2 separate regions of the Homo sapiens genome follow, and region 2 is linked to region 1. Evidence: fine-mapped expression QTL. A gene starts in region 1. The other region holds a variant in brackets. All regions are shown on one strand. Distances are from middle to middle. Region 1 holds the start of ARHGEF10 (Rho guanine nucleotide exchange factor 10). Region 2 overlaps LINC03021 (long intergenic non-protein coding RNA 3021).

Region 1 (5,380 bases):
TAACAGCTACGCTTCCCTTCTGTCTTATTTCACGCCACTTACCTTTCTACCCAGGCAAACTATAAGCAACGCACGCATGAAACACAGATTCTCTGAGCATCTCCAGATCCGAGCTGTTCTTTGCATGCTTCCTGCCACACACTGTGCAGTAAACAATGACGGGCCTACAACAGCGCTTTCTTACATCTCACTATGACGTTTTCACATCGCTTACAGAATACAACCGTCATTAGCGCATTTCCAGTTTGCTCTAATTTATGCCAAACATCTTTGTTTTAAGCAGCACTTCCCCATACAACGCCTTCTAGCAACTTCGTAAGTGAGCACCCTCAAGTCCCGTGAGAAGTCTGGACTCACAGGGCCAGGGAAAAGCTTCCCCACCTCAACCCAGGTCTGTAACTCCACACCCTCCACACCACCCAACGCCTCTATCTACAACTCACACACGCGCACACACACACACACAAAGCGCACACACACACAGCACACACACAAACACACGCACACACAAACGCACACACATGCATACAAACACAAACACATACACAAAGACACACGCACACGTATGCACACACAAACTGCAGAGGAAAGGCAGCACACCAAAGCACCCAGAAGACAAATGTGGTTACATCTGGAAGTCAAGCATCAACTTTTAAAAACATAAAAAGCTATTCTGAATAACTTTTAACTTCACTTCACCCCCAACTGTCTACAACTAATGAATTACAAATAGCACCTTATACAAATGACTTTTCTTACTGCTGAGAAATCCTGGAGGTCTCATCTGTCTATAAAGAGTTATGCATCCGTAACTGCCGATGTTGGCTGCTAAAGCCAGCAAATAAATGCTGTGAGAGACAGACAGGGACAAAGTGTGTTTTTAAAAATACATGACGTGTAAACCTCAGTAATCATCTCTCTTTTCGAATAAAAATTATTTTCTATAAAGCAGGTGTTCAAAACATATTATTAATCAGCAACAGTGAAATTGTTCCTCCTTGCAGCATTCCACCCATATGGACATTAAGTCACTCCTGCACAGAATCTAGAATACTGACCAGTCCGTACTCAGGTTATGGTTAACCAGAGAAAAGAATTAAAACCCGTTACATCTTGAGTCAATGAGAATTTTTACTTGCAGCCAAAGTTAGTGACTGGAATCAATATCAGACAACAGCAAGTTCGTCTACTGCTGCCTGGGAACATGACCTACTGGCCACAGTCGGGAGGGGTACTCAGACCTCACCTTCAGTGCCCAGGGGCCCATGGAAGGGGAGTGGGGCTGGGACAGGTGGGCAGGGCGTCTGTGGACCTAGGGCAGTTTCCTCAGAATCTACCTTGGCTTCTTGGGCACCAGCGGGCTGTGGGGTGCAGGGGAACAGGTGGAGTACGGGGGGGACAGCTGGGGTGCGAGGGACAGCTGGGGTGCAGGGTAAACAGGTGAGGTGTAGGGGGACAGGTGAGGTGCAGAGGACAGGTGGGGATCAGGGGGACAGGTGGGGTGCAGGACAGTTGAGGTGCAGGGGACAGGTGGGGTTCAGGGAGAGAGGTGGGGTGCGAGGACAGGTGGGGTGCGGGGGAACAGGTGGGGTACGGGGAGACAGGTGGGGTGCGGGGGGACAGGTGGGGTGCAGGTGAACAGGTGGGGTGCGGGGGACAGGTGGGGTGCGGGGGGACAGGTGGGGTGCGGGGGGACAGGTGGGGTGCGGGGGGACAGGTGGAGTGCGGGGGGACAGGTGGGGTGCGGGGGGACAGGTGGGGTGCGGGGGGACAGGTGAGGTGCAGGGGGGACAGGTGGGGTGCGGGGGGACAGGTGGAGTGCGGGGGGACAGGTGGAGTGCGGGTGAACAGGTGGGGTGTGGGGGGACAGCTGGGGTGCAGAGTAAACAGGTGGGGTGTGGGGAGGACAGGTGGGGTGCGAGGGGACAGGTGGGGTGCGGGGAACTGGTGGAGTGCAGAGTTAACATGGGGTGCTGAGGGACAGGCGGGGTACACGGGGTGCGGGGAACTGGTGGGGTGTGGGGGGACAGCTGGGGTGCAGAGTAAACAGGTGGGGTGTGGGGAAGACAGGTGGGGTGCAGGGGGAACAGGTGGGGTGCGAGGGGACAGGTGGGGTGCAGAATAAACAGGTAGGGTGCGGGGGGACAGGCGGGGTGCGGGGGAATAGGTGGGGTGTGGGGGGGACAGCTGCGGCGCGGGGGACAGCTGGGGTGCAGGGTAAACAGGTGGGGTGCGGGGGGACAGCTGGGGTGCGGGGAACTGGTGGAGTGCAGAGTGAACAGGGGGTGCTGAGGGACAGGCGGGGTACACGGGGTGCGGGGAACTGGTGGGGTAGGGGGACAGGTAGGGTGCGGGGGAAAGACGCCGGCTTTCCTTACACCGGTCCTTCTCTGCATCCTGAGGCGGACCGCATTCTTCTCCTTTACCGGAAAATCTAAGTTACTGCACGACCCCCCAGGCGAAGCCAGCTCGCCCCTCGGGCTCCTTCCGCCGATCGGAGTTCGCTCCTGCCCCTGGGGCCAGGGGTCCCTGCTGCCAGTCCCTGCTCCCCCCGCCCAGGCCCGCGCCGTTATCCTGAGGGGCCGGGGGCGCCGCGGAAGGGGGAGCTGCTCGGGGGGAGGGGGTCTCAGCCCCTTCCCTGAAACATCTGCGCAGGGGGTCGGGGGCGCAGCCACCTCCGGGTGGGACCCAGCGATTTCGGGGGAGCCGGGCAGAAGTGCAACTCTCAAAGGAAACCAGAAGCCCGCGAGGGGACCCACGGTCCGCGGGGCCCGCACTCACCTCGGCGGCCAGGACGCGACCCGCAGTCCCCTGCTGTTCCCCGCCGTCCCCCGCTGTTCCCCGCCGTCCCCCGCTGTTCCCCGCCGTCCCCCGCCGTTCCCCGCCGTCCCCCGCGTCCCCCGCGTCCCCCGCGACCCCGTCCGTCCCGGATCGCGCGCCCGCCGGCTACAGGGATGCGCCCAGCCCCTCCCGCCCGGACGGCCTGCTCCACCCACCATGCTGTCATTGGCGGGCCCAGACCGTTCCGGGCGCCCATTGGCCGCAGAGCCTGCCGGTTTCTCGGCAGCGCCCTGCCCTCGCGCCCGCGCATTCCTTCGAGGCCACGTGGCCGCCCGCGCCCCCTCCCGCTGCCCAACGCCCGGCCCAGGCTGCGCACGCGTGGGAGGGGGCGCGCGGCAGAGGCTCCCGCCCCCGGATCATCTCCTGCCCCGCGGACCCCGGGCCGCGCTCACTTCGGGAGGGGTCGCTGGGCAGACCGAGTGCCCTCCCCGCCCCCAACATCTGGATCCTCCCCGCAGAGCCTGCTCCCGGCTCAGAGCTGCGCCCCTTGGGGAGGGTGCGCCGGGCAGACCCTAACCCTCTCCCAGAGCACCGCCCTTTCTGCGGACCCCCACGGGCTGAGCTCACCTGAGGGAGGGGGCGTCGGGCAGACGCTCCCCCCCCCAGAACATCGCCCCTCCCTGCGGACACCCGGGGTGCGCCCAGCCGAGGAGGGGGCGTCGGGACCCCACCCGACCCGCCCTTGAGCCCCCGTCCCTCCGTCCGCAGCTGGCCCTGCCCACAGGGCGTTCCGGGTCTTCCGCGCCAGCTGCCCTGGACCAGCCAAGGCTTGGGCGTTTGGAAATGCGATGACTTCAGCCACGTTTCCGAGGCAGTTTTTGAAGCTTGCTTCTTGCCAGGAAGCGCTCGTTTTTCCCGGGACCTTTCCAGGGAATGGCCCCTTCTGAGTTATTGGAATTGTTTACTTTGAGCATTTATTTGTCTTATACTTTTAAAAAGGAAACAGATTATCGTTATAATTACTATTAAAGAAAAAAAAAAACGAGAAACAAAGACATTTTTAACCAAAATAACTAAAGGATGTTATCTTTTACCTGGTCAGCACATTTAACAAGTGTGTTCGCAGATGCTAGATTTATTTCTATGCCTTCTCCTACCCAAATCTCCGAATCATAGAAGTAATTTTAAGTCAGTGTTTTAGAACTGTCAGACTTCTTAGAGATTTCTAGCCCCTTTCACTTGTTTTATAGAAGAAATACAAACAGCTATTTGGGATGCTAAGTATCACGAAATTAATCTAAACATTAACTGCCCTTAAGGCTTGTGTGCTCTGGAATAAGTTATTTCCCTGAAAATTTTGGACTATGTAAAAATCATAGCCAACATAGAAAGACTACAATGGCTGGAAAAAATAATCGTAGGTAAGGTGATATTTTTTCAATGTTTATTATTCACACTTGCTAATTTTATGAAATCAGACTGAGTTGTTTTTATGAATCAATTGAAAAAGGTATTTGCTCTCAGCGACCTTAAGATTAGAAAACTTATTTCAGGTTTCTATTCCTAGGGTTCTCTGGGTACCTTATTCAGAGATCTTCTGCACAGATCAATGGTCAGATCAATGGTCTTGATCAACAGAAGTAAGAAGGTCAACTAAATTAGTTCTTGTTTACCTAAATACGATGAGAAAATCCTGATACTTGTAGTGTTTTCTAAAAAGGTAGAGATAAGAGGAAATAGTCCTGTGTATGGAATAAACAACTCATTTTCTCAATGGATGAAATTGAGCCCCTAAACTCAGGGCCGCCAGGGACACCACTGAGTAGGGCCACAGAGCAATGCCTTCCAGGCAGGTTGGGCAGAAAATCCCCTGATTTGGAGCTCCAATAGATCCTGTCTGTCTGCTTTATTCAGGCGTTCCTCACAGATACATCCCTATTTTCGTAAGCCCGGATATGGAAGAGTTGGGATTTTCCATTGTGATTCCCTCTTTGACCCATGGGATATTTAGAAAAGTTAGGTTCACCTTTCAAATATATGGGGACTTTCTGGTTTTCTTTTTATTGTAACTAAAGTTTAATTCCACCGGGCCTTAAAACATCAGCTGTTTTATTTTTGTCGTTTAAGATTTTCAAACACTTGCTTCATGGCCCAACATTGTCTATTTTGGTAAATGTTCTATGAGCACTTGCTGAGAACATGCTTTCACTGACATAAAGTTCTACAGATGTCAATTAGGTCATATTTGTTACTGATTTTTTTATCTACTTGTACTTTTTATCTACTTGTACTTTTTATCTACTTGTACTGATAAGGGTGTATGAAAATCTTTGACTCTCCGTAGTCTATTCAGCATTGTCCTGCAGCATCTAACAAGTGTTGTAGGTCATAAAAACAAAAAGTGTAAGGATTGAGGGAGGAAAAACTGATTATTTACAGTCAATATGATTATATATGTTAAAAAACAAAATTATCTACAAATAAACTATTAGGATTAAAATAGAATTTAGGAATTTCAGATGGATCATAGACTTAAGTGTAAAAATTATAAAGTTGCTAGGATAAAATATAAGAAAAGATCTTACGGATCTTCAGGTAA
Region 2 (5,380 bases), 740 kb before region 1:
TGAACCACCTTGCCCAGGCCACTTATGTAGCTTTTAGCTGTGATTTCTTGTCTTGTACAAGACAATATACAAATTATTATCACCTTTGTTCTACTATAATCTAGACTTTATCATATAAAGTTGAGTTTTAAAGGCCCAAAAAAGTATTTGTAGAAAATTAATACTATTTATTATTCGTGAAAAGTCATGATTTCTTTTCAGATCAAATTATCTGTCAAAAACCTTATCAAATAGAAAACAACTCATAAATAAAATGTATTTCTCATCAAGTCATTTGAAGTGTATACCAGGCTGGGTATGGTGGCTCATGCTTGTGATCCCAGCACTGTGTGAGGCCAAGGCGGGAGTATCACTTGAGCTCAGAAGTTCGAGCCCAGCCTAGGCAACAAAGTGAGACCCCACCTCTACAAATAACAACAAAAAAAATAGTTGGGCATGGTGGTATGTGCCCATAGTCCCAGCTACTTGAGAGGCGGAGGTGGGAGAATCACTTGAGCGTGGGATGTGGAGGCTACAGTGATCAAGTCACTATACTCCAGCCTAGACAACAGAGCAAGACTGTCAATAAATAAATAAATAAAGTATGAATTCAATTTGCCTCTTAATTTCCTCCCTCCTTCCCTCCCTCTTTCCATTCTTTCTTTCTTTCTTTTCTTTCCTTCTTCCTTTCTTTTTCTTTCTTTCTTTCTTTCTTTCTTTCTTTCTTTTCTTTTCTTTTTCTCTCTTTCTCTCTCTCTTTCTCTTTCTTTCTTTTTCTCTCTCTTTCTTTCTCTTTCCTTTTTTTTCTGGGTGGTCTCATTCTGTCACCCAGACTGGAGTGCAGTGGTGTCATCATGGCTCACTCCAGCCTCAACCTCCCTGGGGCTCAGGTGATCTTCCCACCTCACCTCAGATCCTTGAGTAGCTGAGACTACAAGCACTCACCACCACACCCAGCTAATTTCTATAGTTTTTTGTAGAGACTGGATTTCACCATGTTGCCCAGGCTTGTCTTGAACTCAAATTCCTGGGCTCAAGTCATCTCTGTTAGTTTTCTTAATCATATTGATTTGTTTGTTGAGAACTTAACTTCCCTTGTCTTTTCCTGAATTCTTATTTGGCACTTTCATGTGGGTGAGGTTGACATAGTACTTTTCTCTCCCTGCTTGGTTAGCTTATATTAAAACAGAAACAGTGCTATGAGCAGAGGACCATAACAGAGCAGCTGTGACCAGCAGTTCTTTATTTTGTTTCTGGCAAACAGACGTGTTTCTTCAGGTGCAACCATTATGGGGTAGCTAGAGCATATTTTGTGAGGAAATAGAAGTTTAATTAATAAGAATTAAAACTCTGAATTACTTTATTAATTGAAAGTGCATCATTTGTTTACTTGACTTGGGAATTCCATTTTCATTTAATTCAGTATCTTAAATGCTGGAAGTTCGATGTGAGTGAACGCATCAACTATTGCATTAGCAGGTCAGTTTTACAACAAACTGAATGCTATCAATTTAAAGAAGCTTTAAATATTTTGGAATAAAATGTCAGTGAAGTTTCTAACAGAAAAACCAAACCTCAGTATTTAGATGTAGCAAGCTTGCCATCTACTGATCAGTAGGATTTGTTTAATGTAAAAGGAAATTTTGAATATGAATGTGGCTGCATCTGAAATAGTGATATTAATATTTTAAAGCAAAACGGCTTAACAAGTAGCTTCCTGGTATAAAGCCCTAGGCTGAGCCTTGGGGAAGATACAAGGAGGGTATGAAGCTGCAGTAGGCTTCAAAATAATTAGTTTGGTAGGGCATGTAAGATGCATGCACAAGTTTGTTAAGGAAACATACAAGGTGTCTTGTATACAAAAGGTGGGACAAACAGGCCTGGGACATGTTCTCCACCATCTTCGCGCCCCTCGGCAGCAGCCTGGCACGCCCGCAGCCTTTGCTCTCTGTCTCTCCTGACAAACCCACATGGCCTCCCCAAAGCCCACATTCTAGAAGCATTTGTCTTCAGGTGCTATTTCAGATAACTGTTTATTATTAGTATTTTGGAAGAAGTGCAAACAAGGTACTATGGTAGGATAGTTCTCATGTCAAAAAAGAGGTGCAAGCAAAACACTAAGGTTTGTCACAGCATAACAGCACTCGTTGGCTCCATGATCAACTCCAGGTGCATTGAGCTGTAAATCAAAAGCGGAGCCCATGGCGGGTCCCTGCTGCAGGTGGTCCCTGCAAATTGCTGATGTAAATGAAGTAACATGATCTAGATGTGACTCCTACCCCTGTAGTCTAAGCAGTAAAAGTTCAGATAAATGAAAATAGTATGGCTTCTATCAAACTCTAACGCATTCCATAATGAAAACAAATAGTGCATTGTTTATTCATTTAATAACTCTTCCCCATATATCATAATAAAGAGCATCATAACTAACTGCCAGACATCAGGACAGATATGACTGGCCCATTTTCTACGTGCAAAAATTGAATCTGTAAAAATTAAAGTGAATGATCAAGGTCACGAGAAGCCATAACCCTCCTTGTGTCTTCCAGTCAAGCCAACGCTTTTGCAGACAGCTTTTTGCATGGTTGCACGCAGCTCCATATGCCATAGACAACCATGGTGTACCACGTGTGTAATAATATGCTGTGTACAGTGCGATCTATTTAACAACTTTGAAAAACTACAGGGAAAATGTCTACGAAGTTCATCATAGGATAAGTGACT[A/G]TTTGAAAATTAATTCAAAAAGTTTGTTTTCCCAAAGTAAAATCTAAAGTTCTTTCCTGTATGCAGAAACTATATAGGAATCCCAACCCCTTAGGGAAGTAGAAAGCATTTTATTTTACAATAAAGTTCTAAATTAGCAAGTGCCAGTTTAAGAAACAAAAAGGTGAGTTTTTTTTCCTTTGTGAGGAACTACATTTAATTTGCACGTCTAATTGATGATGATTCTATAACTATTTTACCTTTTTGCAAGATTATTTATAAGAAGAGAGCATATGATTGGAAAAAAAACATATTGGATCTAAGATGTAGAAAACTTTTCAAATACTATCTGTATAAAATGTCTATTATTGGTATCTTTCATTGGTTTTTTCCCCCATTTTTTCTTCTCTTGTCCATTTAACTGGTTTTATTTTGTTTTTATTTTATTTATTTCTTTTTTGAGGCAAAGTCTCTCTCTGTCACCCAGGCTGCAGTGCAGTGGCATGATCATGGCTCAGGGCAACCTCAACCTCCCAGGCTCAAGAGATCCTCCTTTTTCAGCTTCCAAGTAGCTGGAAGTACAGGCACATGCCACTATACTTGGCTAATTTTTTAAAAATTGTTTTGTAGAGATGAAATGCTACATATCAAGCTGTAACAAGCTGGTCCCGAACTCCTGAGCTCAAGTGACCCTCCTACCTCCCAAAGTGCCTGGATTACAGACGTATGCCACTGTGCTCAGTCCATTGAATTGTTTTTTTTTTTAAATATTGAACTGTTTTTTTAAACCTTTACTCTCAATTTAGGCTAAAAGAAGCCCTATAGAAAGCACTCAATCATTTCTGCAAAGGGGTTTGAGGGTATAAACACACAGTGGGAATAAAAAGTGTGTGTCTATGTGGGCGAAGCGTACTACTGATGCCTCGGTTGGGAGTGTAGCCACGTGATGTTTTATGTAGTCAGCCTTATTCTCAGATGAGGTACCAGGTTTCACTTTTTTAGGTATGTGTACCAGATTCTGGAGTCAGAATGCCTTGTTTAGAGGCTGCGATGGAAGAATCACCAGAGCCCTGGAGGTCAAGGCTGCAGTGAGCCAAGACTGCACCACTACACTCCAGTCTGGGTGACAGAGTGAGAACTTGTCTCAAAAAAGAAAACAAAAAAAAAAAAACCCTAGTTGTAACATAAACTAAATATGTGACCTTAAACAATGTATTCAAACTCTGTGTGCCTCAGTGCTCTCACCTGTGAAATGAGAATAACGCACCTGCCCCACATGGTTGGTGAAAGGGTTGGTTGTAAACACAGGGAGGTACCAAGAACATGTTCAAGACACAAATTAAGGGGCTTACTGTTACTGTGGTCATTATGATTATTACTATTTTGGTGGTTCATTTCCATTTTCTTCTCTTCTTTTGAGATTTTAATTTCATAGGATTAAAATAATTTGATTATCCTTATCATTAGTTTTGTAATGACCTGTTAAAATCTCAAACACGATGAAATATATTTCACATGATATGAGATACAGGAATCACTCAAGGAAGTAAAAAACCAAAAGAGATAGAAGTGATCAGGCTGAGGCTTCACCATGTGACCGGCAGGACTTTTTTCTAGTCTGCTCATGCTGCTATCACAGAATACCAGGCTACAGGGGATTTACAAACAGCAGATATTCATTTCTCACAGTTCTGGAATCTGGAAATCCAAGACCAAGTCACCCAGAGATAAATCTCCTGTGAGGACTGGCTTCCTGGTTCACAGATGGAGCCTTCCTTTTTCACAAGGGCCCCAATCCCCACTCATGAGGCCTCCACCCTGTTGACCTGATCACCTACCAAAGCTCCGCCTTCTAATACTATCACATTAGGGGTTTATAATTTCAACATATGAATCTGGGAGGAGGTGACACAGATATTCAGACCATAGCAGACACGTTTAGTGAATTCCCAAGAGGTGTCTACAAGAGAAAATGCAAAACTTGTATCACTTGGAAGCACCTTCCCAACATCAGCTTCTAAGCCATCAGCTTGTTTTCAGATTTTAAAAAAATGTGATAACTTTGAAACTAATGAGTTTGGACATTTGAGAACACTGGTTTGAAAAAGTGAGACACAAACCTGGCCCCGGCTCCACCAGCAGTGAGCTGCTATGGTCATTGGCAAGTCGATGAACTGCTCTGTGCTACAGCTTTCTTACATGAAATATTTAAGAATGAATTTGAAGGTGTGGATTTGTTGTTCCCAAATAAAGCCTACTAGTATTGATACATTTCATTTTAAAGAATTATTCATTATTCTAAAAAGAGTTTACAATTTGAAATGCTTCCATTTGCCTATAATGGTGAAGAAAATCATCAAAAATTTCATTTCTAAATTGTTGATTCTATGAATATTTTCTCTCCCCTGCTCTTTACTTCTGTGTATGTATGCAGGCAAATCCCACCAGCCAGCCAACATCCAATGAGAGACAACAGTGCCTTATTAATCCAGTGATGTGGACCTTTATTCTAAAGTCGGTAATGTTAGTTAGCTAGGCAGATGTGAGCAAGGCAGGAGGGCTCCCCAACCCCCACCAGAAATGCCAGGTGACCATCAGGCAATGGTCAGGTGGTTGTTAAATTGTCTCTCTAAAATCATAAGAGGTCACAGCTGATGCCAGGGAAAGGAAGTCTCCTAATAGATGGAAAGCACCTGAA

What was found. PIP is the estimated chance that this variant, and not a neighbour inherited with it, causes the effect.
Region 2: its variant is the best candidate, but not a certain one, in a credible set for the expression of ARHGEF10 in aorta (GTEx, PIP 0.58).

The regions. Positions count from the first base shown.
Region 1 is chr8:1,821,515-1,826,894 of GRCh38, reverse strand. ARHGEF10 (Rho guanine nucleotide exchange factor 10) reads right to left here and starts at 2,969. Exons shown (of 29, transcript NM_014629.4): 1 at 2,782-2,969.
Region 2 is chr8:2,566,015-2,571,394 of GRCh38, reverse strand. The region is part of intron 5 of LINC03021 (long intergenic non-protein coding RNA 3021); the gene reads left to right. Among named protein-coding and RNA genes, the nearest start is that of LINC03021, 160 kb to the left of the region's middle. The variant A/G (reference allele first, on the strand shown) is at 2,704.